Homo sapiens: one gene and its partners. The protein of the gene in region 2 interacts with the protein of the main gene of each other region in a biochemical or structural test. Each region holds a gene or a part of one and is shown on either strand. Other genes may lie near its edges.

The links.
Region 1: the proteins of CSN1S1 (region 2) and POLI form a complex in vitro, tested with the Homo sapiens proteins (one large-scale study listed by BioGRID).
Region 3: of the proteins of CSN1S1 (region 2) and KLK6, one has a biochemical effect on the other in vitro, tested with the Homo sapiens proteins (one study listed by IntAct).
Region 4: the proteins of CSN1S1 (region 2) and CSNK2A1 form a complex in vitro, tested with the Homo sapiens proteins (2 studies listed by BioGRID, with this or other methods).

The regions. Positions count from the first base shown.
Region 1 is NC_000018.10:54,293,307-54,301,237, forward strand, and holds the end of POLI (DNA polymerase iota isoform a (long)), read left to right. Parts: intron 1-342; coding exon 343-1,161; 3' UTR 1,162-4,928; downstream 4,929-7,931. UniProt on the Homo sapiens protein: Error-prone DNA polymerase specifically involved in DNA repair. Plays an important role in translesion synthesis, where the normal high-fidelity DNA polymerases cannot proceed and DNA synthesis stalls. Favors Hoogsteen base-pairing in the active site.
Region 2 is NC_000004.12:69,934,068-69,942,889, forward strand, and holds part of CSN1S1 (alpha-S1-casein isoform 1 precursor), read left to right. Parts: intron 1-144; coding exon 145-177; intron 178-622; coding exon 623-643; intron 644-1,858; coding exon 1,859-1,882; intron 1,883-2,388; coding exon 2,389-2,412; intron 2,413-2,498; coding exon 2,499-2,540; intron 2,541-3,053; coding exon 3,054-3,077; intron 3,078-3,732; coding exon 3,733-3,756; intron 3,757-5,108; coding exon 5,109-5,141; intron 5,142-5,953; coding exon 5,954-5,977; intron 5,978-6,951; coding exon 6,952-6,993; intron 6,994-7,978; coding exon 7,979-7,996; intron 7,997-8,468; coding exon 8,469-8,510; intron 8,511-8,822. UniProt on the Homo sapiens protein: Important role in the capacity of milk to transport calcium phosphate. Casoxin D acts as opioid antagonist and has vasorelaxing activity mediated by bradykinin B1 receptors.
Region 3 is NC_000019.10:50,963,092-50,967,660, reverse strand, and holds part of KLK6 (kallikrein-6 isoform A preproprotein), read left to right. Parts: intron 1-164; exon of another isoform or gene 165-335; coding exon 336-492; intron 493-3,150; exon of another isoform or gene 3,151-3,233; intron 3,234-3,994; exon of another isoform or gene 3,995-4,105; intron 4,106-4,111; coding exon 4,112-4,359; intron 4,360-4,569. UniProt on the Homo sapiens protein: Serine protease which exhibits a preference for Arg over Lys in the substrate P1 position and for Ser or Pro in the P2 position.
Region 4 is NC_000020.11:533,611-542,432, forward strand, and holds part of CSNK2A1 (casein kinase II subunit alpha), read right to left. Parts: intron 1-8,822. UniProt on the Homo sapiens protein: Catalytic subunit of a constitutively active serine/threonine-protein kinase complex that phosphorylates a large number of substrates containing acidic residues C-terminal to the phosphorylated serine or threonine.

The DNA of each region.
Region 1 (7,931 bases), on a different chromosome or scaffold from region 2:
CTTAGGTGAACTTGCTTTTCTAGGCCGCCATTCTTTTATTTATAGAATTGAAAGTTTGGTTGCATGATTGTTACAATCTTCCCAGGTCTCCAAATGCATATTTACCTCTGTCTCAGTGCTATCTAGGAAGGAAACCTCTTCCTGGAATAGTGGGTAGAGATTCACAAAATAGTGTGAATAATTGTGGTAGTAGATCTCTAGTTGTTTGGAACTGGCCACAAAGAGTTGTATTTGTTGAGTAGGTTAGAAACATGTCAGATAATAGCTACAGGCACACAGCAGCAGCAGCGATATTTAAAAGATATCAGATATGTAAATTAGTCTGTTATTCTTGTGTTCTAGAAAATGAAAGACACTCATATGGAAGATTTTCCCAAAGACAAAGAAACAAACCGGGATTTCCTACCAAGTGGAAGAATTGAAAGTACAAGAACTAGGGAGTCTCCACTAGATACCACAAATTTTTCTAAAGAAAAAGACATTAATGAATTCCCACTCTGTTCACTTCCTGAAGGTGTTGACCAAGAAGTCTTCAAGCAGCTTCCAGTAGATATTCAAGAAGAAATCCTTTCTGGAAAATCTAGGGAAAAATTTCAAGGGAAAGGAAGTGTGAGTTGTCCATTACATGCCTCTAGAGGAGTATTATCTTTCTTTTCTAAAAAACAAATGCAAGATATTCCCATAAATCCTAGAGATCATTTATCCAGTAGCAAACAGGTATCCTCTGTATCTCCTTGTGAACCGGGAACATCAGGCTTTAATAGCAGTAGTTCTTCTTACATGTCTAGCCAAAAGGATTATTCATATTATTTAGATAATAGATTAAAAGATGAACGAATAAGTCAAGGACCTAAAGAACCTCAAGGATTCCACTTTACAAATTCAAACCCTGCTGTGTCTGCTTTTCATTCATTTCCAAACTTGCAGAGTGAGCAACTTTTCTCCAGAAACCACACTACAGATAGCCATAAGCAAACAGTAGCAACAGACTCTCATGAAGGACTTACAGAAAATAGAGAGCCAGATTCTGTTGATGAGAAAATTACTTTCCCTTCTGACATTGATCCTCAAGTTTTCTATGAACTACCAGAAGCAGTACAAAAGGAACTGCTGGCAGAGTGGAAGAGAGCAGGATCAGATTTCCACATTGGACATAAATAAGCATATTCAGCAAAAAGGTCTGAAAAGCAAGGGAATACCATTATTTTCGGATTAGCGGTTTATTAAGCTCTTCTATATTAAACACTAATAGATATTCAATAACGGAGTAAACTGTTCCAGATAAAGCAAGAATAGTTGCAAGAAGTAAATTCTGGCACAAAGCGTAAAAATATAACAGAAGAAATAATGTAAAATACTATCTTTTATGTCTAAAGCCATTTTATATTACTTTTCAATAAAAAGAATATCATGGTCAACATAGAATATTTTTCATGAATTGGTGGGGAGATGTATATGTTTATATATAAAAAATAGCCAAATCGTTGCAATGATATGGTAAAGGACACATTTTTTTTTTTTTTTTCCTGTGAAATGTGGAATATCTCAAATTCAGCCTCTTAGGCTGAATAGCAAATCCTACTGCCAACTAACCTATTAAAAATATAGATAGTTTTGACTAAAGTACTACATTACATTTAGTATGTTGACTTTTAAAATACCAAAGCAATTTATATTCAATTAATGCTTCTTCATACACCAAGAATCTACCACAATACACAGCACACAAAGGCCGTTCAATAAACATTGAATGAATGAATGGTTTGGCTAGGGCCAGGGTGGGGAGTTAAAGTGAGAGGAGGGTATATGTTATAGAGAACAGTGGTAGAAGGAACTCTCCGTGCAAGTAAATTAAGGGAAAGATGGACACCAGAAAGGCAAGGTGATGGGCCTATAAGCATACTGGATAATGGAAGAAGTCCATTTCTTTCTAGCTAGTTTGAAGGGCCTAAAAGCACTGAGATGTTTTTGTATCTTCCCTACATTTGGAGATGATATTAGGTTGTCATAACAACCACAAATATAGACCATTACTAAATTGGTGGATGTCCTCTTTCTCCCATTGTTATTGCCTTCCTCTTTTGCCTGCTAAACTAAAAATTGGATATAAGATTGAGAATGTATTATATAATTTGCAAGACATAGAGGATGTTTATAGAATATACTAAAGTATCCCTCAGCACCAATATGGGAGTATCCTGGTCTCAAGTTTATAATTTTTGCACATATAATCTAAAGAAGAGACTTTAAAAATAAAGTACACAAATATGAACCAAAGAGTAGCTTAAAAATACTTTCTTCTAGGTCTGAAATTTTCTTTTCTTTCTTTTTTTGTTTTGGAGACAGAGTCTCACTCTGTCGCCCAGGGTGGAGTACAGTGGCGCAATCCCAGCTCACTACAACCTCCGCCTCCCAGGTTCAAGCAATTCTCCTGCCTCAGCCTCCTGAGTAGCTGGGATTACACGCATGCCCTACCACACCCAGCAAATTTTTGTATTTTTAGTAGAGATGACATTTCACCATATTGGCCAGGCTGGTCTCGAACTCCTGGTCTCAGGTGATCCTCCACCTTGGCCTCCCAAAGTGCTGGGATTACAGGTGTGAGCCATTGCTCCTGGCCCCAGCTCTGAAATTTTAACTTAGTTTTGGATTCCTTGGAATTTGAAAATATGCTAACACGAAGGATTGTAAATAGGTAGTTTGAGGTTATCAGGAACAGTAACTTGAAGCAAGAACATCAGAAATTGTTCACCATGCAAATATTTAGTACTCTGAATCAAGGAACATAGTATTTTTTACATGAGTATTCCAGTAAGGTAATTAAACTTATGAAAAGGGTATATAACTTTTTGTAAATCATTAAAACATTTTATAGTCCTTGTAATGATTTCAGGACCTTGGACAGCTAGAAGGGGCTTAAGAAAAAATGGCTAAGAAAACAAAGTAAATGGTTTTGGCCAGCTTAAAAAGAGAAAGCAAAATAGTTAAAAATACATTTCATAGATTGAGAATGTACGGGCTATGTCACAGTTACGCTACTTATTTTGTGGTTTTAAGTTAGTCTCAACATCTTTGGGCCTCAGAATCAACTTTTTTATGGGATCTTTTTTCTCTGTTTTTAAGATTATCTCTTTTTTCTTTGGTGCTTTGCAGGTTTACTGTATTATTTGGAAGTGCGAATTTATTTTTATTCTTAGTATATACTGGCTTCTTCCTGTATCTTTTAATTCATGTTCTGTAAAATTCTCAACCACTAGCTCTTCAAATATTTCTTCTCTATTCTAGGACTGTATACAAATGATAGACTTTCTTACTGTATCCTTCATGTCTCTTAATTTCTCATATTTTTCATCCTCTTGTTTCTCTTTACTGCATTTTGGGTAATTTCATCAGCTCTATCTTTCTGTTTACTAGTTCATTTTTCAGTAGCATCTCACCTGCTATTTAAAACAATGATGGTTTTAATTTCAATAAATATATTTTTCATTTGATTCTTTTTAACTTCCCGTTTACTCATTACAGTCCCTTGTAAGTCTGTTTCTAATTTTTAAAAGTCAAATATATGATATTTTTGATAATTTCAATATTTTAAGTCTTTATAAGTCTACATTTAAGGTTATTATTGCATATCATTGTGACTTATTTCCTTGAGTATGTGTTAATCTGCGAGAAGACAGAGGGCCTAAATTGTGTATGTTTTCCTTCAGTATGATTTGAGTTCGTTGCTTCTCTGGGTGAGGTGGTACAAACTCCTTGGCATACTCTATTCACCTTTGTGGATCCTGATTGAATGCCTTGTCTTAAGTGTAAGCTCCCTGACCCTTACTACTAGCCGAAGGTTTTGTCTCTGCAGGTCAATTCCAAACTAACAGGCAGATGCTGTTAGCTATCTGCCTCCAGGGATAAACCCCATCTTTCAAGCTTGCTTCTTGCTTGATGCTTTCTGCTGCTTTCTTGCTTTTGTTTCAGCTCGAGTTTGTTGTTGTTTTTTTTTTTTCCTGTTTCTGTCTTGAATGTAGAGGGTATTTTTATTTTTATTTTTTCTGTTTCTCTCTTGAGTGTATAGTGTAGAGGGGGTTTCTGTCTTGAGTGTAGGCCTGGAGATTTCCCTTATATGGTACAAACCAGCAATGAATTAAGAGGTCTCTTTTCTCCAAGATCTAGTGTTTTGTACTAGGAGAACTCTAAAAAGTATCTATTCCACTGTAGTGCCAAAGTACAAATTTATTTGGATTTATTTTTTGCCATCTTATTTTTTAATATATTTCTTTTTCTATGTTGTGCTTCTTTCCCACCTTTATCTCTCCTCCTATCTTTTGGGATCAGTTGGGTTTTCTATTTAATCATATATTTTCCCTTTACTGATTTGGAATGTGAATGTTACAAGTCCTTTTGATTATCCTTAAACATCTAAAAATGCTACCCTCTTTCCAAACAACACAAAGGTATTGAAATAACATTAATTCTAATTAAATTCCACAAGTTCTTTATTAAATCTCCAAATTGGATATTATTAGTATTTTATATAGTCAATGTTTATTTTTTTGATGGGACATGGTGGGGGCTTACCTTTTTTCTTGTGTGTCAGATGTTCCTTCTAGGTAGAATTCTTTATACCTTCTGAAATTATGTCCTTAGAGCTGTAGATTTAGAACTGACATCTCTTGAGCTGTTCTAAGATAATATCTTTTACTTTGGAGATACGCAGTTTTTATTATATGTCTAGCTATAGATTTATCATGGATTTAGGTTCATTATGAATCTGCAGATTTGTGTCTTCCATCAAATCTGGATTGTTTTCAATATTAAAAAAACTTCTATTTTAAAATCTGTATATAGAAAGGTACATAAACATAAATGAACATGTTAATGAGTAATTGTAACAACTATGTAACTGTCCAAGTCAAGAAATAAAACATATCAAGTAATCAAGAAGTCCAGAGTTTTCTTTGGGGTTTCATTACGTAGGCATGATTTATTAAAACCTTTACTGTGTGCTTGAACTTAATCTCCAGTTTCCCTCCTCTGTCTGGACATCAGGCTGGCTCAAAGTCTCAACACCCTAATCATGGTTGTTTTTTTGAAGTGAGCTACCTCCATCCTAAATCATCTTTTTAGCATTAGCTGTCTAGGGCCCACTGTGGGTCACATCATTAGCATACAGTGTCAGGGCTTACCATGAATAATGAAGGCACTTCTGTTGTTTAGGAAATTCCATGGGTTTTAGGAGCTTGGTGTCCAGGAACCCTGAACGAAGACCAGACCAATTATACTACAGAATCTTTTTTTTTTTTTTTTTTTTGAGATGGGGTCTCGCTCTGTCGCCCAGGTTGGAGTGCAAAGGTGTGATCTTGACTCACTGCAACCTCCATCTCCTGGGTTCAAGTGATTCTCCTGCCTCAGCCTCGAGTAGCTGGGATTACAGGCACCTACCACCACACCCAGCTAATTTTTGTATTTTTAATAGAGATGGCATTTCACCATGTTGGTCAGGCTGATCTTGAACTCCTGACCTCGTGATCTGCCCGCCTCAGCCTCCCAAAGTGCTGAGATACAGGTGTGAGTCACCACCCCTGGCCCTACTACAGAATCTTTTAAAATAAGTTTTGAGATGTATTATGGCCCCAAAGTGATCTACTTTAGTAAATATAGGTATGACTTGACTGACAATGTGGTTATGCTCAGATAAGCCCATTGTAAATTGAAAATATCATGAGTGAAATACATTTAATACATCTATGAAACATCATAGCTTAGCCAGGCCTACCTCAGACATACTCAGAGCAACTCACGTTGGCCTACAGTTGGGCAAAGTAGTGTAACACAAAGCCTGTTGACAGAGCCTGGGCCGGGCGTGGTGGCTCATGCTTGTAATCCTAGCACTTTGGGAGGCCGAGGCTGGTGGATTGCCTAAGCTCAGGAGTTCGAGACCAACCTGGGCAACATGGTGAAACCCTGTCTCTACCAAAATACAAAAAGTTGACTGGGCGTGGTGGTGCACGCCTGTAGTCCCACCTACTGGGGAGGCTGAGACAGGAGACTCGCTTGAACCTGGGAGGTGGAGGTTGCAGTGAACCAAGATCCCACCATTGCACTCCAGCCTGAGTGACAGAGCAAGACTCCATCTCAAAACAAAACAAAAAAAGCCTGTTTTATAATAAAATGTTGAATATCTCATGTAAGTATCATACTGCATATCAGTCACCGAATGGAATTAACAGCAGATACTGCTGGAGAAAAAATTAGTGCACTAGAAGTCAGAGCAATAAATTATTCAGAAAGAAACAGAGAAAAAATAATAAACACAGCATCTGTGAGCTATGAGACAACTTCAGGCAGGCTAATACATGTCTTATTCAAGTCCCCAAAGAAGAGAAGAGGGTGGGAGATGTAAAAAATATGTGAAGAAACAATGGAGAAATTTTTCCAAATTTGAGGTTAACTATAAACCCACAGGTCCAAAGAGCTTGGCAAATCCCAGGTACAATAAACGTGAAGAAAACTATACCAAGGAGTAACCTAATCAGAGCTCTTAAAACCAGTGATAAACACCATCCCTTGAAAAAGACATACTATTGCAGAAAAACAAGCAAAGCCAACAATTTTGAAAATATTGGAAGCCAGAAGACAGTGGTCTGACATCCTCAAATAAAGTAAAGAAGTGGGGGAAAAGTTGGTTAACTTAGATATCTTAAAAAAAAAAGGAAAATAAGAACATAAGGCATACATATGAAAGAACTCATGCCCGGTAGACCTACATTACCCATAAAATTAGAGGAAGTCCAACAGGCAGGAAGAGCACACCAGATGGAAATACAGATCTACACACAGAAATGAGGAGCACCAGAAATATGAGTATATTTAAAAGCTTTTTTTGTTTCTTATTTCTAAGTGTCTTTTTAAAAGTTGGCTATATAAAACAAAAATAAAAATTATTAAAAATATATTGTAGGATTACAATATATGTGGGAGTAAAATGTAACAGTACAAAGGCCAGGAGGGGAAGTATATAATTTTAAGTATAGAAATGGTAGTATATTATTGTAAGGCCCTTAAACTAAACATGAAGTGGTGGGTTACATCTTGAAGACAGACTGTGATAAGTTAGAGATGTATAATATAAACCCTAAAATAACCACTGAAATAGCAAAATAAGTTTTAATTAATAAGCCAGTAAAGAAGATAAGAAATAGAATAATAAAAAGCCACAAAATTCAATCCCCAAAAAAAGCTTAAAAGGAGAGAAAAGAGGAATAGGACACATGGGGAAAATAGAAAACAAATAGTAGGTTGGTACATTTAAGTCATATCAAAATCATGTTAAATATAAATGATCTAAAAACCTCAATTAAAGGGCAGAGATTATCAGATTGCATGAAAAAGTAGGACCCAACTGTCTGCTGTGTATATAAAATTTTTTAAAAAATAAAGACAAATATGTTAAAAGTAAAAATTGGATAAAAGACACGAGTCTAACATTAATCAAAAGAAAGATGTAATAGCTTTCAACAGGAAAACTGCTTGTTAGAGCAAAGGAATTTAATCAGAAAATCATTTCAAAATGATAAACGAGTCAGTTCATCAGGAGAATGCAATAGTCCTAAATGTTAATGCATCCTCAAAATACATAAAGCAAAAGCTGATAAAACTGCAAGGGGAAAAATATCCACAATTGTAGTTAAGAGATTTGAGGCTGGGTGTGGTGGCTCACACCTGTAATCCCAACACTTTGGGAGGCCAGGGTGGGCAGATCACAAGGTCAGGAGTTCGAGACCAGCCTGGCCAATATACTGAAACCCCGTCTCTACTAAAAATACCAAAAAGTAGCTGGGCGTGGTGGCGGGCACCTGTAATCTTAGCTACTCGGGAGGCTGACGCAGGAGAATCACTTGAACCTGGGAGATGGAGGTTGCAGTGAGCTGAGATTGTGC
Region 2 (8,822 bases):
TGGTCTCTGACAAATATTGCTATTAAAACACATACCTTTTGAAAATGGCAGTGTCAAAAATCATCGTATTATATGTGTATTATTATATTGTTATTGTCATTTTAGTTACTTTTTGTTTTACAATTCTTGCATTGTTTTTCACAGAAACTTCCTCTTAGATACCCAGAACGCCTTCAGGTAAATATTCTATTCTGCATTCCAAGAACTCACTCTAATTGTGAAGCACAAACTCCAAATGTGCGCTTCCCTTCTCTATGAAACAGCCTGCTTCACTTTTGCTGACGCATCATTTCTTTAGTTCAAGCACTGTCAGATGGTATTTGCTCTCACAAAACTTAGAGGACGGCACACTGACTTAGATAAACATTTATGTTAATAAAAATCTTATTTTTATTCCAGAGAAATAGTTAATTAAACAGAATGTGTTAACATGTTTATTTTAATGTATTCTTGCTTTTTTCAATGTTACACATATTCAAGCATGTGATTTACAGTTTGGTCTCATTTGATATGTTGAATCTTGAATTAGTTACCTCTACCACAACTTTCTATGAGCACAACTAATCCTACATTCTGTCCTGCAATTGGAATAATACCATTTAAAAATTATTATTTTTTACAGAATCCATCAGAGAGCAGTGAGGTAAGCTCTGTTTATGGGGAGTCAGGATTCTCTCTTCCTTTTGCTCTCTTTCAGTTAGCTGTCATGCATGTTGAATGTCTTCTTCTTTACAATTTTTATTTCCCTTCAAATGCATCCAACAACTCAAGTACCTGGATTGCTCTCTAAATTCTGTTTTGATGAAATTCCTATTTGACTTCTTAGCCATTTTGGTAAGCATAGACTTATTAAATTTACTGGCCTGGTGAAGAAGGAACTAATTAAGGTGTAGGTGTTCTTTAGATTGTAAAATTAGATCATAAAACTAAAACTAATTATTTGTTCTTCTAGCTAAGAAATCTGTTGGTTTACCGAATTAAATGGAGCATTTGTGTTCAAATGAGAATAATGTGGTTTTTTGGTGTTTTTATTATTTTTATAATTCACAATTTAATTTCAATAAGAAATTATCAAAGAAGGAAAGTTTCTCAGGCTTCTTCTGGTAAGTGTTATCCACTTATTCTTAAAAGAAGAAACATACTTTTATGGGAAAAATTATTTAATTTTTGTTTATAAAAATGTTTTTTTCACTGGGTGCTGTGGCTCACACCTGTAATCCCAACACTTTGGGAGGCTGAGGCAGGAGGATTGCTTGAGCCCAGGAATTCGAGATGAGCCTAAGCAACATAACCAAACCCCGTCTCTACAAAAAAAATTTTGAAAAAAAAAAAAATAGTCGGATGTGGCGGCATGCACTTGTGGTTCCAGCTACTTGGGAAGCTGAGGTGTGAGGGTCACTTGAGCATGGGCGGTTAAAGCTGCAATGAGTCGTGATAGCACAAGGGCAACAGAGCAAGAAATTGCCTTAAAACAAAGTGGTTTTTTGTTGTTGTTGTTGTTTAACCTAAGTTAATCAACCCTTCCCTTCATTCAGTCATCCAAACACCCAGAAAGAATATAAAAACAAGATATGTATATGTTAAAGAGCTGCTTTATATTTTAATTTGTACCTAAACGTTTGCCTCTCCAAAACACTCTGCTCTCCTTTCCGTGACGTATGTAGAGGTTTACAATTTCCTCACTCCTTATAATAGAATGCTCTTAACTATAAATAATACATATGTGTCACATTCTCTATAATTTTTGACTTAATTGTTGAATAGAAGAACATAACGTTTTAATTCAAGGACATTATCTAAATGATTTGATAGATAACTCAACTATGAATGAATTTTAACATAACTTTTTTTTTTGTAGCCTATACCATTAGAATCAAGAGAGGTAAGAATGACTCCACAGAATTTACCGTGCAATTAACAAAGAGAAGTAAGTGTTAAGATCAGGAGACTCAGAACAGTGCCTAAAACAAAGTGAAAGTCAAGGATAACAAATTTGAGTGGAACAAACTTAAAAATATTGTTAAATGCACATTTACATACTAGCCTTACACAAAGAAGGAGTAGGGAAACACCACTTAAAGGTTAGAAATGATACAATAAGGAATATTAGTTCATTTGTGAAAAATAAATTTATTTTTAAATTTGTATCAGCACTAATGAATTCTGCTGAGAATTCTGAAGACTACTGATTTGATTGACTTAATTGTGTAGTGAGAAAGACCACTTAAGGTTAGAAATGATATAATAAGGAATATTAGTTCATTCAGGAAAAATGGATTTATTTTTAAATTTGTATCAGCACGATGTGAAGTACAGTTTCTCATAGATTTCCACTCATGTATGTCTTGTTTCACTAATATTGTTTATGTTTTCTTTTTTATCCCTAAGGAATACATGAATGGTATGAACAGGGTAAGAAACATCAATGAAATTTAAATTATGTTAAAAGTTTGTTTTCATGAAAACATATTTTACAAGGTACACTTTATTGATTTTAGCAGAGAAACATTCTGAGAGAAAAACAGACTGATGAAATCAAGGTACCAAAGTTTTTCTTGAAAGAGTATGGCAAAAGTATATATTCTTGTAGTAGAAAAAAAGTTTTCCTTTAGGAAAAAAAAGCATTTTTCTATGGTTTTGTCCTTTCCTTGAACTTTTCACTCATACATTTGTAGTGACTAATGGAGTCTGCTGAGAATTCTGAAGAAAATGATTTCATTGACTTAATTGTGCAACTGTGATGAAACAAGGCATTAGTGTGAATGAATGAAATAACAAATAAACAAATAAATGCAATTATGTATTCACATTTATCACCAAAATTAAAGGAATGCTTTATCAAGGGTATTATATGAAGTAATACAATATCTGGCTCAAGAATATTTACATAGTCATACTCAATTATTTTCTTTAACCATAACATCTTTGATTTGGATTGTCTACTAGTTTTCTAGTAGAATTGGTATTGAGAGAGCAGGTGCTCAAACTTTATGAGATAAAATATATATCTTCTTAACAATCTGTCATACCTAACTGATTGACTGTCTTGGCAGGATACTAGGAATGAGTCTACTCAGGTGAGACCCTTTGTTTTAAAATTATTAAACCAATATGAGGAAAAGAAACAATACATATTTCCCCAAATAAATTATTATTTTAAATAAAAACTATGGCAGATAACTCTAATTCAAAGAAAGAAAAGAAATAGTGTATCATACATTGGCCAGAATAACCAAACCAACACAAATATTTTAAATTTAAATTCTATGGATAATGTCACTGATCTCTGTATTGCTGTAGTCGTGAAAACTGAGCAAAACATACTAGATGGAGCAAGTTCTTTTGCTTAGGTATTTACACACCATTAAATCAGTGCTCTCCTTTAGTCCAGTTGTATTTACTGCATGAGCTTCAGTGCAGTGTCCTGCTCAGAGTCCAGAAGCCAAGTTTTAAAAGAGGGAAAGCAAAAAGTCATGCTGGATAAAGGAAAATGTAAACTTGTTTTCACTGATTTGCTACAATATAGAAGAATCCGAAACGTTTTATTTAAACTTCAAAATGCAGATTCATTTGGCTCAGAGATAAAGTAGGCAGTTTTTTTAGTTTTTCTTATTACTTTTATATTGTCTCAGTTTTCTATTTTCTTTGACATCCATTTTATTTGGTAATCATTACTTTTGTATTTGACTATTTGTCATGAAAAATGAAATTGATTATTTTTTCTTTCTTAAGAACTGTGTTGTGGCAGAGCCTGAGGTAAGACCCATTCATTCTAGTGAACTCTACACTTACGTATCAAACATAGTATATGCAGCATGCTTCATTTTAAAAAGACTGTCTTCTGAAATTAAGCAAAATAAGAAACTGAATTTTAAAATGTTAACATTTTAATTTTAAATTAATCCTATTCTAATTTTAACTTATTGAACTTCTCAAACAGGAATATTATACTCAAGAATGTACAATGTTGTGCTAGATAAAGTTGAAATTGGAAGACGGAATTTAAGCCATTTAAATAATAATTAGTAAAAAAATGCTTATTCATTAAAATATAAAATAAAAACAAAAGGTGCATGGATGTTTAAAATGAGAGTCCCACAGAACACTGACTCTGACATCCCAGGGCATGAGATTACTTTTTTATTTTAGATACAAGTGCATGTATGTATGTAAGATTTTTACATGAGTATGTTAGACACAGGTAGTGAGCATACTACCCAACAGGTATAGGTTGGTGCAAAAGTTATTGTGCTTTTTACCATTAAAAATAATGGCAATACTATTAGGTTGGTGCAAAAGTAATTGCAGTTTTTACAGCGTAATGGCAAAAACCTCAATTACTTTTGCACCAACTTAATAGTTTGTCAACCCACGCCCCTCTCCCTCTCCTTGGGCAGAAAGAATCTATGGCAGCAATTACCTAGGATCAGTGAGCTATACTACCTACTCTACAATTATATTTTTTTAAATGCTGACTTATTACATATGGTTAATCAACCATCCCCAGAGATAAAGTCTGTTGAATATTAAAATTAATCTGTTAAAATATGTATGTATTTGGAAAGTAAAATTATATGTATATATAAATATAAACATAAATGACTTTGAAGAAAAAGTAAATATTTCAAAGTAAATATTTTAAAATCTAATGTAATTTTAATTTCATCTTAAGATTGTGCATTGTATTTAATGTTTCCATTTTATTCACATCAAAGAAGCCCCAAGGACAGATGAGAACAGATGTTTAACCCAGGGTTCTGGGTACCCAGCTAAATATGGTTCTTTCTTAGAGGTTTCATTTTTGTCACAAAAATCTATGCAAATTTTGCATTCTACTCAATGATAAACTTGTGTTTGTTTTCCTAAATTAAAAACAATTGTTTTTAAGTTTTTATGTTCCCAGATAAGTTATTAAACCTACCACCATAATTTTTCAAGTAAAATTCACACTCCAAGAAAATACAATGTAGTACGCCTGAATTTTTCCATACCACTTATTCAGTTATAATGTTACCATGGTAAGCATTTCACCATGATGACATGGAACTAGTTTCCTTCAAATTCTAAAAATCCCAGGGGATAATTAACACTAGATTTCTTTCTTTTAGAAGATGGAATCCAGCATCAGTTCATCGAGTGAGGTAAATAATTTTGATATTAATTCTGTGTCCCAACTAATTTAAAAAATTATGAAAACTTGTACCGTGAGGATTACATATCCCTTAAGGTCTCATTGTACAAGGCAGTGTATATGTGGCACTATTCTAGTTTTAGTATGTGAGTAGCTATCCAAAAGAAGTAAGAAAGCAATTGTTTGTCAGAGACAAATTGACAAAATTATTTCTGGGCAAACAATCTTATCTGGCCATCTGTGATGTCCAAATTATTTTTTTAACCAATTACTTTGTCCTTCGCAGATTTTGTTAAAACTCAATCTTATCATTAAAAATTCTAACAATTACCATGCTTATAAACCCATGAAGTAAACATTTCATAAACCATTTAGAATTTAACCAATTCTAGATTAATCAGACACTGGACTCCTCCAGCTACTCTCCACTCTTTGCCCTGTGTTAATCTTGAGAAAAAAAGTCAGCCTACAAAAAAAGTGGTGCGGTTTTTCCTTTGACTTTGGAAGAAGACCTTCATGCAAGTTACCAAAATAAAACCAACTCACTTAAGTGGGGTTTCTGTTAATTGAATAAAAATCATTACTTCACATCCACCCCCAGCATTCGGAGCAATGTAGTGGTTAAAGCAGTGAGAAAAGGAAAAGCAATGTGATTATAATATGTGGTTCAAATTATTAATCTTGTCTCAGTTTTTTGGGAATTTATCACTAAAATCAATTCACTGCAATTATTTAGTAATAGTTTTGTTGATTCATATTTTAACTTTAAATGTAAATTAATGTCGTGAAATTAAAACTATGCATGTTTTAATTTTTTTAAAGGAAATGTCTCTCAGTAAGTGTGCGGTAAGACATATTTGCTAAATTTAAAATATATTAATATTTTCCAGGATAATTAAAATGCACTTACTTTCACACACACACACACACACACACACACACACACACACACGGGAAAACATGCTATACCAATGCCATCTGGAAAGGTGGCATTAAAGTTTTATCAAAGGCAAATAAATATACCAAGGAATGAGTGAGAATGTTGTATTAATAAATTATTTATCCTTTTCAATATCTGCTAGACTTTATTGTAACTAGTCTGATGGGATCTAGATGTTTTCTTATTCCCCCTCTAAAAATAAAGCTAGCGACTTTTTTTATCCCAGTTATCTAATTCACAGTTTTAGTTGAATATTTGTAATTTATAGTCTCCTTTTGAATCTACATAACATAGTATTTAAGTGGCAGTCTATAGATCTGGTTACACTTGAGTTCAACTCATAGCTCTACCTTTTACACGTATGTGATGTTGAACCGTTCACTTTCCCAGTATAAGTCTATAACTTAATCCTAAAATGGCAATAATAATAAATATTAGATGATGTAAAGCAATTAATGTAATCCATGACACAGAGCAAACTGTCAATAAATGTTGGATAGCATTTGAAAAATTATTTTTCCCTGTCCATTTAATATTCTAATATAATTTGGCCAAAGTTAAATCTTCACAGTCAGAAAACAAAAAAACAGTTTTAACTTTCTTAATAATTCTGATATATTGTAACTAAAATTGGCTGTACTAATTTATATCAGACAGAATTATAATTTAAATTCAAGAAGTTGCTTTTTAAAATGTTTTTAAAAGGGAATAATGGAAGAGATCCAAATTATTTGGGGTAGAAATGGCACTCAGGTGTAATAGTTCCTCATTCTCTACCCTTGGGAAAGAGCATTGTTAGATTCTTGTTTCATCATATGAAAATGATGGGGTTGGACTGAATGACATCCAAGCAATTGAGAATATTTTTCTTTTTAAATAGGAACAGTTTTGTAGACTGAACGAATACAACCAACTTCAGCTGGTAATATTTTATTCATTATAATACAAAATCATATTCTACTATAGAATTAAAACATATTAAATTTTAAATTGGGGCCATTTCTAAATATATTTTTATTTTTCTTAAGAAATTATTTATTCTAGCCTTGACCAATAATTGGCAAGTTATTTGTATGATTGCCGGCATATTTGCGGGCAATGCTCATTCTCTTTATTCCTGGACTAAAGTTCTATATATTATCCATACTTACTAACCAGGGAGAAAGTGACTACATTCTACTGCAAATCCACTTTTAACCTCCCTGATGATACATTATGTCCTGGTTGAGAATTTCACAAATATGCTTACCTGTGAAATCACAGATATGTCAAATAAACTTTCCATTTAAGGAAACAGGATAGATTCTGGGAAAGGAAACAGGAATGCTAAACATCAGATTTGCTTCTGTCAAAACTCACATAATCTGCTTAACACTGGTTTTGACCCTTTTGAGTAACATAAAAGTCTTTCTTTTGGGAGGACAATAAAAACCTTTCAGTAACTACAAACAAATTTGACGTAATGAAGGCTTTGGGAAATGCTTGGTTTTAGTTCAGCAAAATTGCATGCTAGCATTTTTAATCGTTATCAATAGAGGAAGATGAAAATCAGTAATGAATTTAATATGGACCCTAATTGTTACTCTAGTTTCCATTTTCAGGTAACTTGTGTTTAAAATAGTATCCAAATAAATTTAAACACATTAGTACCCCAATAGAATTCATCATTATTGATCTAGAAAATTACCTGAATAATATATTTTAGTACCATAGATATGATATGGCTAGTCTGTAACCTCCACAACTGTTAGAACCTACTTGTCCTCCTGAGAGATTTTGTAGTATTTTACAGTGGTATCTCCAGTATTTAACATTGTCCCTGAACAAATGAAGGTACCCAGCAAATGTTTCTTATTAATGAGTAAATAAAATGAAAATACTAAAACAGAATGTTTTCTCCTCCCTAGCAAGCTGCCCATGCCCAGGTGAGATTATTTATTAAATCTAAAATATTTTAGTATTTCCTTCATGTGTTATGTTTTTATAATGCATGATTCTCTTTTAACATAAATATATTCTGAGAGAGTGTTCTACCAACACTATCTGATAATATTTTACTTAAAAGTCACAAAAGACAAAATTTAAATAATTAATAAATAGCCATAAATAGAAAAATATGTAGTCCTAGAGAAATGGTAGGTTATTATTTTTCCTCAGAGTATGAACCTTACTAATTGTTTATTTTTCCAAACTATAGTGAGCTTAGCCTTTAGCTAAAATTTTTTTCTGACATTAGAAAATAAAAAGTGTTTTGACATTTTTTGCTAACTGTGGCATAGAATACAGTCTATTCTAAATTTCATGAATGATGTTATGTATACTTCTGGTGCAATGTAAGATAAATGTGTTGTACCAGAAGATGTCTAAGTAATTTAGAATGTGTTTCCTTTTATGCAGGAGCAAATTCGCAGAATGAATGAAAACAGCCATGTCCAAGTGGTAATATTTTGCTTAATATATTACAAAACGATAATATTTTGTTAAGCTTAAATATGTTTGCTCTTAAATAGCCCCCTACTCTTGAAGAGATTTTTTTCTTCTCAAACATTTCTCACTCCCAACTTAAATCTCAGTTCTGACAACTTCTAAGCATATGACCTTGAGCACATTGTGTATTCTCTTGGACCTTTGGTTTCTCATTTGTGGAGAAAAACAATATGTGTCTATCAATTTATTTCCTCCTCCAAAACTCCCATGTCTTGATGTTTACAGTGACATATTGTGTCTTCACATTTAAAGATAATAACTGTA
Region 3 (4,569 bases), on a different chromosome or scaffold from region 2:
TGATCCATAGTTCACTGCAGACTTGAACTCTTGGGTCTCAAGTGACCCTCCCACCTCAGCCTCCCAAGTAGCTGGGACTACAGGCGTATGCCACCATACCCTGCTAATTTGTGTGTGTGTGTGTGTGTGTGTGTGTGTGTGTGTGTGTGGAGATGAGGTCTCACTGTGTTACCGAGGCTGGTCTCAAACTCCTGGGCTCAAGCGATCCTCCTGCCTCAGCTGGGATTACAGGCATAAGCCACTGCACCTGACCAATCTTGACTGGAGTTCATGTTGAGGGGGATGCGCTTGGTTTCTCCAGAACTCCTCTCTGACTCAGATCTTCTCTCCCTCAGCCTGGGCAGAGGAGCAGAATAAGTTGGTGCATGGCGGACCCTGCGACAAGACATCTCACCCCTACCAAGCTGCCCTCTACACCTCGGGCCACTTGCTCTGTGGTGGGGTCCTTATCCATCCACTGTGGGTCCTCACAGCTGCCCACTGCAAAAAACCGTGAGTCTACACTGTAAATGAACAGCAGATGCGACTGAACCCTGAGGGTGTCTTATAGATGTCAGGCAGGAGGTGACATAGGCATCCCCCCCATCCCAGCACGAGGCCATCTGATAGCCAGGTGCATTCGGCTGTTGCTTAATTGAGTACTTAATGTGTGCCAGGCCCTGCGGGCATAGCAGTGGAAAAGAAAATAAAAAAAAGAAAACAAAAAAAAACAAGCAAAATTGCTGTTTTCCTGAACTTACTTTCTAATGGGGGAATTGGATCATTTGGGGACCTGCAGGGCGTGATGGGCATTTGGATTTAATTCTGAGCACAGTAGGAAGCCACTGGGCAGTTTTGTTTTTGTTGTTTGTTTGTTTTTTGAGACACAGTCTCGCTCTGTCACCCAGGCTGGAGTGTAGTGGCATGATCTCAGCTCACTGCAACCTCTGCCTCCCAGGTTCCAGCGATTCTCCTGCCTCAGCACCCCAAGTAGCTGAGATTACAGGTGTGCACCACCTTGCCTGGCTAATTTTTGTATGTTTGGTAGAGACGGGGTTTCACCATGTTGGCCAGGCTGGTCTCGAACTCCTGACCTCAGGTGATCCGCCCGCCTCGCCCTCCCAAAGAGCTGGGATTACAGGCATGAGCCACCACCACACCCAGCCTGATTTACATTTTTACAAGCACCCTGGCTACCACGTGGAACGTGGTCTGGGCAAGAGAGAGGGAGGGAGGCCCACGTGGGGGCTGTTGCTTTCATCCGGCGACATAGGAGGGTGGCTTGAACCCAGGCGGTCGCAGTGGGGATGGAGGGATGTTGAATATCTTGGGATGTGGAATTCTGAGACTGAGCCAGCAGAATCTGGCAACGAGGAACAGGAGGGAGAGGAAGAAGCACGGCTGGCTTCCGTGTATTTGTCCTGAACAACTGGGTGTTTTGCCACGTCTTTCTCTGAGTTGTGGGAGAGGGAAAGAGAAACAGGCCGGGTGTAGGCAGGGGAGCATCTGACATTTTGCTTTAGCCACGATGAGTTGGAGATGCCGGGGAGATGTCCCAGCAGGGAGGCCAGGGAGGACTCTGGAGCTCAGAGGAGAGGTCAGGGCTGGAGGTTAAAATGAAGGCATCGTCAGCAAACAGGTGTATTTAAAGCCATGGGACTAGATGAGATCATCCAAAAAGCTGGCATAGTTGGAGGAGCTGGAGGGCCCAGGACAAAAACCCTGGGCGCTGATCCTCACTAGTCAGATTCACGACAGCTGCCACTTGTTTGATGCTAACTACCAATCAGGTGCTGAGTGAAACCATGTACACACCTTTCCTGGAATGCCCACCACAAGGGACTCTTGGCACCATTTTGCAAATGAGGAAACTGAGGTGCAGGGAAATAGCAAGTGACAATCCCTGGGGTGGTTCCCCTGACCCCAAGGAGACCTTGGATGACTCTCACCACCATCATTCATTCCTTTGATGTACATTGACTAAGAGCACCTGCTAAGTGCCACATTCGAGTTGGGCAGTGGAGATTCAGCAATGGATGGGACACACACGTCATCCCTGCCCTCGGGAGCACAAGGACAGAAAGGTGCAGACAAGCAAAGTGAGGGCTGGGCATGGTGGCTCACGCCTGTAATCCCAGCACTTTGGGAGGCCGAGGTGGGTGGATTACCTGAGTTCGAGACCAGCTTGGCCAACATGGCTCAACCCTGTCTCTACTGAAAATACAAAAAATTAGCCAGGCGTGGTGGTGGGCTTCTGTAATTCCAGCAACTTGGGAGGCTAAGGCAGGAGAATTGCTTGAACGTGGGAGGCGGAGGTTGCAGTGAGCCGAGATCGCGCCACTGCACTCCAGCCTGAACCACAGAGCGAGACTCTGTCTAAAAAAAAAAAAAGGAAAGAAAGAAGCAGCAAATTGGGCTGGCCGTGGTGGCTCATGCCTGTAATCCCAGCACTTTGGGAGGCCGAGGCGGGTGGATCACTCGAGCCCAGGAGTACAAAGCTGCAGTGAGCTGTGATCTACAGAACACCACTGCAGATCCAGCCTGGGTGACAGAGCGAGACCCTGTCTCAAAAAAACAAACAAACAAAAGAAGCAAACCCTTCAAAACCCCATATAATTACAAATTATGAAGGAAAAGAATACGGGTACCTACTTTAGATGGAGGAGGGTCAGGAAGGACTTTCTAATGAGATAAAATCCAAGCGGAGGCATGAAGATGGGAAAAGGAATGTTCAGGGCAGAGGAAAGGCTGTGATAACACCCCTGAGGTGAGAACCGTCTTGAGTATTCTCAGAAAATAAAATTTCCCGTTCACTGGGGGGCAGAAGGTGCTGGGAGATAAGGTTGGAAAGTGACTACAGCCAGATCACACAGGGGCTCCAGTGCCAAGTGGAGGAGCCCAGGCTTTATTCTTAGGACAATGGGGAGCCATGGGTGATGTCTGAGCAAGGGAGTGACTCTCTGTTTCAGGAATATGTATCAAACACCTATCCTGTGCCAGGTGCTGATCAACGCACTGGAGATACTATATCTGAATAGAACAAAAATCCCCATCTTGACATCCTAGAGCTGCACTGTCTAATATGGTAGCCATCAGCCACATATAGCAAATTACATTGAAATTAATGAAATGGAAAATCCACAAGCCACATTTCAAGTACTCAGCAGCCACCTGTAGCTTGTGGTTCCCCCAGCCACCTCTGGACAGTGCAGATCGAGATCATGGCATCGTAGCATTTAGTGGACAGCATTGCTCTGCAAGGAGGAGAAATAACACAATGAGTAAATATTTAACAATAAATATATAGCAGGTCGGATGATTGTGATAGGTTCTCTGGTGGAACAGAAAGCAGGGGAGGGAGATAGGAATTGCCTACTAACAGGTATTTGTATTTTAATTGGGCAACTAAGGAAGGCTTCCCTGAGAGGCGACATTTAAAGGAAGTGAGGGAGTGAGCTATGCAGATACTTGGAGGACAGACTTGCTGGCAGAGGGAACAGCAGTGCAAAGGCCCTGAGGTGGGAAGATCACTATTGTGTTCAAGGCAAGACAGGGAAGCCAGCGTTTGGCTGGAGCAGAGGGAGAGAAGGGGAGAGTGGGAGGAGAAGATGTCTGTGAGATGATGGGGCAGTGCTTGCAAGGCCTGGTGTGCCACGTTGAGAACTTTGGCTTTGATTCTGAGTGAGATGGGAGTCATAGGAGGGGCTGAGCAGAGGAGGCACAGGACCAACTTACATTGTTAAAATATCTCTGGTTGCTTTGTGGAGGATGGACTGTGGGGGACCAGAGACAGAGCAGGGAGCCCAGTGAGGAGGCTACTGCTCTAGTTCAGGTAGGAAGTGAAAAGGCAGCTCAAACCAAGATGGTAGCCGTGGGAAAGGTGAGATGTGGCCAGATTCTGGATATGCTTCAGAGAGGCAAAAGGAATTCTGGACAGCTTGGATGTAGGGCATGAAATAAAGAGAGTGAAGAATAGCCCCCAAGATTATTCTGAAAGGATGGAATTGCCATTTACCCAGCTGGGGAAGACTGTGGGAGGAGCAGGCCAGCGATTCATGACTTCCCAGCCCTCTCTGAAGCCTCAACTGCAGCCCAAGGGCTCCAGGTGAGACCCAGCCCTCTTCCTTCCCAGGAATCTTCAGGTCTTCCTGGGGAAGCATAACCTTCGGCAAAGGGAGAGTTCCCAGGAGCAGAGTTCTGTTGTCCGGGCTGTGATCCACCCTGACTATGATGCCGCCAGCCATGACCAGGACATCATGCTGTTGCGCCTGGCACGCCCAGCCAAACTCTCTGAACTCATCCAGCCCCTTCCCCTGGAGAGGGACTGCTCAGCCAACACCACCAGCTGCCACATCCTGGGCTGGGGCAAGACAGCAGATGGTCAGTAGTGGGAGGCTGGTGGGGAGCAGGCTACTGGCTACTTGGGGAAGTGTGCCAAAGGATGGGGAGTGGGAAAATTGGTGAGGGGCCATGGGAAGATGGGCTAATGGTGAGGACCAATGGGACAGGGTTTCAATGGGAGAAAGGTCAAGGGGGAGGGAGAGTGAATTTGGGAGCTGGGCCAGTGAGTGAACAGCCAATGGAAAATGT
Region 4 (8,822 bases), on a different chromosome or scaffold from region 2:
TACATACATACATACAAAAAAATTAAACCAATACACGGAAGTATTACTTCCATAAAACAAACCAGGAAGTACAGTAAAACAGAAAACATTAGCATTTGGGCCTTTTGTGTGAATTACATTTCTCCACCTTCAACCCAGAAAAGGGATCTGAGTGTCAATGTGACATAAATGACATAGCAACAGTGTGAGGTCTCCCAATGAAGGGAGGTATTAGAAGAAAATCCAAGCAGTTTGATTTGGATTAATAGTTCTACCCCAAACACCTAAGAGAAATCGGAATTCCAGTACTGTCTCTTACAATATAGTCATCATCTATACACCTTTTTACCACGCCATATAAGCAAAATAAAGTCACAATGTGAAACTTTACTCCACTGGCTATTACCCTCTGGAACCAAAAGATGGAAAACTTCATTTGGGATATACAGTAATCTAAAGAAAAATTCAGCACTTATGAATGTAATAACTACTGTTACCATTTGAATGCCTCTTACAAACCAGGCACAGTATCAGATGCATATTCTGATTTTAGAAATAAACAGATTCAGAGGTTAAATAATCTGCCAAAAACAACAGGATTACTAAGTGGTGGAAGCCAGATCTGTTTAGGATCCAAAGCCTAAATAGGTTCTTTTCACTAAATTTAATACTATTTCCTTAGTTCTCCAAACTGATTTATTAACAGCCTATCCAAAACACTATAATAAAATGAACTGCTTTAAATTTGGAGGCAAGGTAGGGGTGGGATACTGAGTTTCAATAATCAGGTTTCTTCATTATTCTTTTACCTGAATGGGCTGGCCACCAGGCCACAATTGTATAAAAATCAGATTTTAAATGATGGAAAAGCTTTTCTGTGTGGCTACTGAAGGGAGAAAGGAAGACAACTGAGACATGCCCCACCTTGCTGGCTGGGGGCTGGTGACATCTGTGGGCCTCAGTGTTGGACTCCAGATGCAACAAAGCCTAAAGTTTTGAATATGTATGAAGGTCAATGTGATGTTTTCCAAAAACAGTCATAAAAGATGGCTGTGAAAAACCCCCTAGTATAACAACTGTATGTAACAAGAGCATATAGGTAGCTGCAGATGAATGCTCAGGTCCTTAGCTGTGGTGTTTAAAAATTCTTCAGACCAGGCTGGGTGCAGTGGCTCACACCTGCAATCCCAGCACTTTGGGAGGCCGAGATGGGTGGATTGCCTGAGCTCAGGTGTTAGAGACCAGCCTGGGAAACACAGTGAAACCCCATCTCTACTAAAATACAAAAAAAAAAAAAAGCCAGGCGTGGCAGCGTGCGCCTGTAGTCCCAGCTACTTGGGAGGCTGAGGCAGGAGAATTGCTTGAACCCGGGAGGTGGAGGTTGCAGTGAGCCAAGGTCGTGCCACTGCACTCCAGCCTGGCAACAGAGTGAGATGCTATCTCCCAAAAAAAAAAAAAAAAAAAAAAAAAAAAAAAATTTCTTCGGACCAGTGTGGTGGCTCATGAGTGTAATCTCAGCACTTTGGGAGGCTGAGTTAAGAGGACTGCTTGAGCCCAGGAGTTTGAGACCAGCCTGGGCAACATGGTGAGACCTTGTCTCTACAAAAAAAATTAACAACTACCCACAAAGAAAACCCTAGCTCAAGATGGCTTCACTGGAAGGAAAAATGAACTGGTCAGGAAGACAGACAAATAGAAGCAAATAATGAAAGCATTTTATTTGACATTGATAACCTTCTCACAATAAATTATGTGGCAAAATACATGCTTGAATACTTAATTGCTAGGCAATAGTCTATTTTCATTTTTTCACAAAAGGTAGACAACTCCAAAGCAGATGGCCATTTGTAGCCATTCTATATAATCATAAATACACAAAACACTGGCCGGGCGCGGTGGCTCACGCCTGTAACCCCAGCACTTTGGGAGGCTGAGGCGGGTGGATCACCTGAGGTCAGGAGTTTGAGGCCAGCGTGGCCAACATGGCGACACCCCGCCTCTACTAAAAATACAAAAATTAGCCCGGTGGGGTGGCATGCACCTGTAATCCCAGTTACTTAGGAGGCTGAGAGAGGAGAATCACTTGAACCCAGGAGGCAGAGATTGCGCCACTGCACTCCAGCTTGGGCGACAGAGCAAGACTCCATCTCAAAAAAAAAAAAAAAAAAAGTTTTAAAGTGCCGATAAATACAAGTTCCTGGTCTGCCTACAGTTTATCACTTAATAATACAAAGCAAACAAGAAAGCAAGTTAGTGGATTACCTGAGAGAGCAAGACATAGAGAAGATGTTAATGCAGGGAGCTGGCCTTCTCCAAACATATCCCTAACACACAATATTCAAGCAATTCCCAAACTGTGATCAGAGAACCACTGGGAGTAAGACCTCTGATCTATATTTACAAGTCTATAGGTGAGCAAAGGTAGACCTTTTCCTGAGTCTGAGATGGGAATATTACCTTCTCTATCTAGAAGCAAAAGAATCCTAGACTCACCAGGACTAGGTAATAGACACTGTACACGAGTAATTGAGGTAATCTACACTGGGCGTGACTTACATACTGATCCACCCCTAGGCAGCAATTCATACCTCACCCACCCAACAGGCTACATTAGAAACAAGGAAGTACAGGTCAAAAGTCTCATTAAAAAAATAAGAACTCTTGGCAGCAGAAAATGAAAATAAAGAATGAAGAATGACAGCACTGGCAATAAACACATTCTTTTCTCCGAAAGGGAAGGGAAAGAACTAATGTTGGGCACCCACATGCCAGACATTTTATCAATTTTCTCCTTTAATCCTCAATAATCCTGAGATAATACTAGCTAGTACTCTAGTTATTAATCCTCACAAAAATCCTGAGGTAGGTACTACTAATTCCCATGTTACAGGTGAAGAAACCAAAAGTTAGTAAGTTGCCCAAGGTAGTTGTTATCCGAACTGTAGAGACAAGAACTCCCAGACTTGAAGAGGTTAAGTAAACTTCCCCAAACTCAAAGTGGGAGTTCTTTCCCACTAACCTATTGCCTTCCCCTCCCTACCCGCAATCTCAATTAATTCTCTATTCTACCCCCTTCTCATTTCTGCAGCTGTTTCAAAAACTACACCTAAGATACAAAGCAAATAGGAGTTATTATAAGAAAACACCTCCAAAATCTACTAAGTTGTGGTATGATATGCCTGTTATCAGAAAACGTCACTCAATTTTGAGCTTGGAGGGCAGTGACAGTTTGGAGATCTTTAGCACAACGCCTGCCAGAAACGTGGCAGGCGCTCAGGATCTGCTGAATGAACAACATCTTCTGAGTGGTTATGAATTCAATAACCCAAAATGACCATCTCGTATTTCTGGATATGACATGATACCATTTTTTGGAAAATAATTTACCCATTCATTTTAAACAGGGTAGCTTTCTTAAAATTTATAGAACATTGATGAGATAGCTAAACTGAGAAATGCCCATTAAAGCATTAGTCATAACTTCAGGAAAATTTCAAATGTTCACTTTTCCAAGCAAATTAAAATGTTTCAGCTAATAAAAACCTGTCAGAAAAACCCACAAGACAAGAAAGTATAAAAAGAAAAGAGCAGCCAATATAAGGGCATTTAAGATGTCACACATAAAAAATTATAAAACATTAATCTAACTTGTACCTTGGTATTTAACCCTAAAACTGTCACCTCAGATAACACAATATTTTCTATGCAAGAAAACATTATCACCACGAATGTAAAGAAGCTTGCCGACCATAGCAACTGTTGCTACGTAGGGTTTTTTAATGTCTAAGACTGAAAGACAGAATTTGTAGAAACCAGTTAAAATGCCACTCTTAGCAGTATCTTGTGATACTGTGAATGCTTTCACCTTAAACTTTTTAAAAGACTCAATCTTTGACTTCTACATGTGAAAAAAAAAAAGTACATCTGGGAGCACTCAACGTAAGAAAACTACCAATTGTCTATAACCCAATGAAAATACATCCTTTGTTACAATGACAGCAGCTACTTTTCCTTAATAATCCTAGAGGAATTTCTTCATTTGAAAAGCTGGCTGGCCTAGATTTCTCTATAAACTAAATGACATGCTACTTTCGAAATTATCCATTTCAGAAGTTCAAAGAAATTCAGGTATAAGAACACATTAATACTCTCATGAAACAAACCTTATCCAGGTTACCCACGAATTGTGACAGATCAAAACCCAGTTTCTCATTTCAAATCAAGTATCACATTATTTATTACCTTAAAATACTAAGCCCTTACCTAATTCAATGGCAAATCATATTGGTTTTCAGTTTCTGAACTTGTACAAATCATACTGTAATATTTATGCAAAAGTTGTCATATAGTTGAATATTATAGACAGTTAACATCTTTTTTTTTTTTTTTTGAGACGGAGTCTTGCTCTGTCCCCCAGGCTGGAGTGCAGTGGCGTGATCTTGACTCACTGCAACCAACCTCCGTCTCCCAGGTTCAAGTGATTCTCAGCCTCCTGAGTAGCTGGGACCACAGGCACGCACCTCCACACTCAGCTAATTTTAGTAGAGATGGGGTTTTACCATGTTGGCCAGGCTGGTCTTGTCCTGACCTCAAGTCATCTGCCCACCTCGGCCTCTCAAAGAACTGGGATTACAGGTGTGAGCCACCATGCCCGGCCAACAGTAGAAAAGGGTACTCAGGGAACATAGTTCAAAAGTCATGATTCTCTATTGGCTGGACCAGGATTCTAGACTAGCTCTAGGGCTGAGATATCTTAGTAGACCAGTTAACATTCATGTGGCCCAATTTCCCTTACTCTAAACCCAAAGTCAAACATAACCTCTAAAGTCTTTCATACCCTGAAATGCTAATCTTGTAATCATCTTTCTATTCAGGTAATAACTCAAAAGAAATGGTCTCACTTCCTTCATCCTCTGACTAAAGTTTAGTTAGTCCATATTTTATGAATCCAATTAATAGGATACTTTAAAGAACAAAAAGAAAAGACTTTTCTTAAAAGCTAGAAACTCCATTCTGTAGTGATGATTCCCAGATCTGACTCTTAAACTCAACAACCTCAACAGACAATGACAGGGAGAAAAGATCTTACAAGTTTGAGCTGAGCTGGGGTGGGGTGGGAGGTGTGAGAGAACAGAGAGACAGTTACAAATTCACAAAAATGTATCACCCATTTCCATCTCCTCTAAAAAAATATGAAATAAGCCTTAAAAGGCTGTCATAGAAACCCATTATTAAGCCAATAAAAACTAATGAAGAAATTATGTCATTTATCCAAGATATGGAAGAACCACCTATTTACAGAAATCCTACCAATGTCCTAGACCTTCAGAAACTACATCTCACTAAGCTGACCATCAAGCCCCTTCAAACTGCATCTAAGGACAATAATAATATTCAAACATCAAGAAACAGGCACAGGTTCCACTCAACACCATTATTCCGTGGAGTCTTCCAGGACTAAATTGTTTTATAGAATCTTTGCTATCTTTGTTCTCTAGAAAATGATATCCCAAAGACTCTAAAATAAAACCAGCAAAACCCCTGTATTTGTTTTCCATTGTGTCATAACAAATTATCACAAACAAAACAACACAAATGGATTATCTTACAGAAGTCAGTGGGCTTGACTGGGTCTCACAAGGGCTAAATGAGGGTATCCAGTGGGTGGGTTCCCTGCTGGAAACTCTGGGGAAAATTTGCTTCCACATTCATTCAAGCTATTGGCTGAATTTAGTTCCTTGCAGCTGTAGGACTGAGTTCCCACTTCCTTGCTGGTTGTCAGCTGGGACTGGCCTTTCCTACTAGAGGCTGCCTGCATTCCCCGTCTCACACTTTCAATCTGGTCCCCTCCAGTAACGGCAGGCTGAGTCCTTCTCATGCTTCAAATTTGACTTCCCCTTCTGCCTCATCTCTGACACCAGCCAGAAAAAGTTCTCTGCTTTTAAGTGCTTATGTGAGTAGAATAAACCCACCCAGAAAATCCAAGATAATCTACCTAAGATCCTTAACTTTAATTAAATCTACTTAACATATTCATGTTCCAGGGTTTATAGTATGGAAATCGTAGGGGAGCCATTCTGCTTACCGCAGTCTGCCTTCTGGTTTCCAAGGATTCATCTCTCTCTCAAATGCAAAATACATCCATCCCATCCCAAGGTCCCAAAGGTTTCCCATCTAAAGCTTATCATTTCAGAAGTCCCAAATCTCATTCATCTATTCAGGTGTGGATGAGGTTCTGGGGACAAAACAGTAAGTCCAATTCCTGGGGCACAATTCCTAAAGAAACAAGTTCTCTACTCCCAACATACCACTGTGAGACATGTAGAGAATAACAGTTAGACATTCCAGTTCAAATGGGCAAAATGTAAAAGAAAACAGAGCCTCCGGTCCAAAGCAGTTTCAAAATCTAGGGAATCTCCATTCCATTTCAAAGCCTGGGAAAAATCCTCTCCAGCTTTTAGCTCCACCCCTCTGGGCTCTCCTATCTCCGTCTGAGTCACCCTGATTCTTTTATGAAAAGCAACACATTCACATGTGAGTAGTTTTATCAGCCTGCTTCCTATCAGTAGAATTTGGGGGGTCCAACAGCCCTATTACTTTCTGTCTCTTTCAATCCAAACTAGAACTGTTTATGTTGGCATAAAATTCTCAAGAACCTAATGGGCTGTGGAAGTATTCCACATGGGTCCACTCCATTAAAGTTCACATTCACAAATAAACCAGGCTGCACATTTAATACTTTGCTTGGAAATCTCAGCTAAATATACAAGTTCATCACTTGCAAATTTGGCTTTCCATATAACCATAGGATACAATTCTGCTAAACTTAGTTGCTACTATGTAACAAGGATCCCCTTTCTGCCAGTTTCCAATAAGAAAGACCTCACTTCTGTCTGGGCCCTCACTAGCAGAGTCATTAACATCCATATTGCTACTAAAAGTATGTCCTAGGCCTTTTCTTTTTTGACAGGGTCTCACTCTGCCACCCAGGCTGGAGTGCAGTGGTGCCATTACCGCTCACTGCAGCCTTGACTTCCTGGGCTCAAGCGATCCTCCTGTGTTCCAGGCCTTTTCTATCATGCCCCTCAAAACAATTCTAACCTTTATCTACTGCCACTTTCATTTTTAGGTAATAGTACCCCACTCCTGGTACCAAAATCTATACTAGTGTTCTACTGCTGCCATAACAAATTACCACAAATGTAGTAGCTAAAAATAACACAAATTTGTTATCTCACAGTTATTGTAGGTCAGAAGTTGGGTGGGCTTGGCTAGCTAGGTCTTTTGCTTAGGGTCTCACGAGGCCAAAAATCAAGGTGTCTCAAGGTTGCATTCCTTGGTGGAAACTGGGAAATTCACTTCCAAGCTCAATCAGGTTGTTGACCAAATTCAGGTTCCTTCTGGTTGCACAACTGAGGTCCCCATTTCTTTCTGGTTGTCAGCCAGGGACTGGTCTTTGCCACTAGAGGCTGCCCACATTCCTTCTGATAAACTTTCCATGTGGTCCTCTCTAGCAAAGGCAAATGGAGTCCTTCTCATGCTTCAAATCTCTGATTTCCTTTTCTGCCCATTTCTCTGATCCCAGTTGGAGAAAGTTCTCTGCTTTTAAGGACTTAAGTGACTAGATTCGGCCCACCCAGAAAATCCAGGATAATTTTTCTATTTTAAGATTCTTAACCTTAATTACACCTGCCAAGTTCCTTTTGCCATGTAACACAGGATAGCTACAGATTCTGGGGATCAAGGTATGGCACCTTGGGAAGAGGGAGATGTAATTCTGCCTACTACAAATCCAAGTCCTATGGAAGGGTTTAAACTCACTTCCTAAAGAAAATCATCCCTTTCTTTAACAGAGTGTGAAGTAAAGATGTATATATTTTACTTATGTGAAGTAAAGTATATATACATACATACATATGTCTTTACTTATGTGACACAAAGATGTATGTTCAGAGATAGAGACAATAGTAAAAACAAGGACTCACTCTGGATGAGTGAGTAGGAAAAGGACGCGCAGTATGGAAAAGGAGTTGCCACCTGTTTCATCCTCAAATTGCAAGGCACTTCACCCATAACTACTTAGAAACTAACCCATGCTCCTCCTTAAATGTGTATTTCTCTTCTCTGTATTCCACAAAGGAGTACATAACTAGGCTTTTTTTTATTTTTAAAGAAAAGTCACCTCACGGGGACCTAACTGTATAATCAGTTGATTAATCAATCTAAGCAAATTTCCAATCTTGCATTCTTTCTTCAAGTCATACACCCTCCCGCAATAGCAAACCAAAGCCAAGTATTTCAAAGTCACAGAAGGACAAAAACATGCCCTGCTAAGACTGCAGGTGAACTTTTGAGAATACCACGGAGGAGAACTAGTATTGGTACTGGACTTTCAGCCCCAGGTCCACCAAGCCAGTAAAGCCAAATGACTTACAACAAAACCCTACAACAACTACAAAGATACTACTCTAAAGCCCTGTCTACAGTCAAATTCTTGACTATAAATTTTACTTAGAACAGAAGAGCCCCAAATATACCAGCTAGTCCCTTTACAGTGACAGGTAAAAGCTACTTACTACACTTACTACCTGCCAGACACTGTAGTAAGCACTTGACACAAATTGTCTTATTTACTCTTCTCCGTAAACTCACAAGCTAGAAAATACCATCATCCCCCTTTTACAGACGGGAAAACTGAGGCTTAGAGAGTTTAGGTCACACAGCTAAGTAGCAATGGCCCTGATATTTGAGAACCTAGGCAGTCTGGTTTTTAACCACTGGGCCTACACTGCACTCCTCAGATGGAATGAAGTCTCCAATTCTTGGAAAAATCTTCCCTTCTT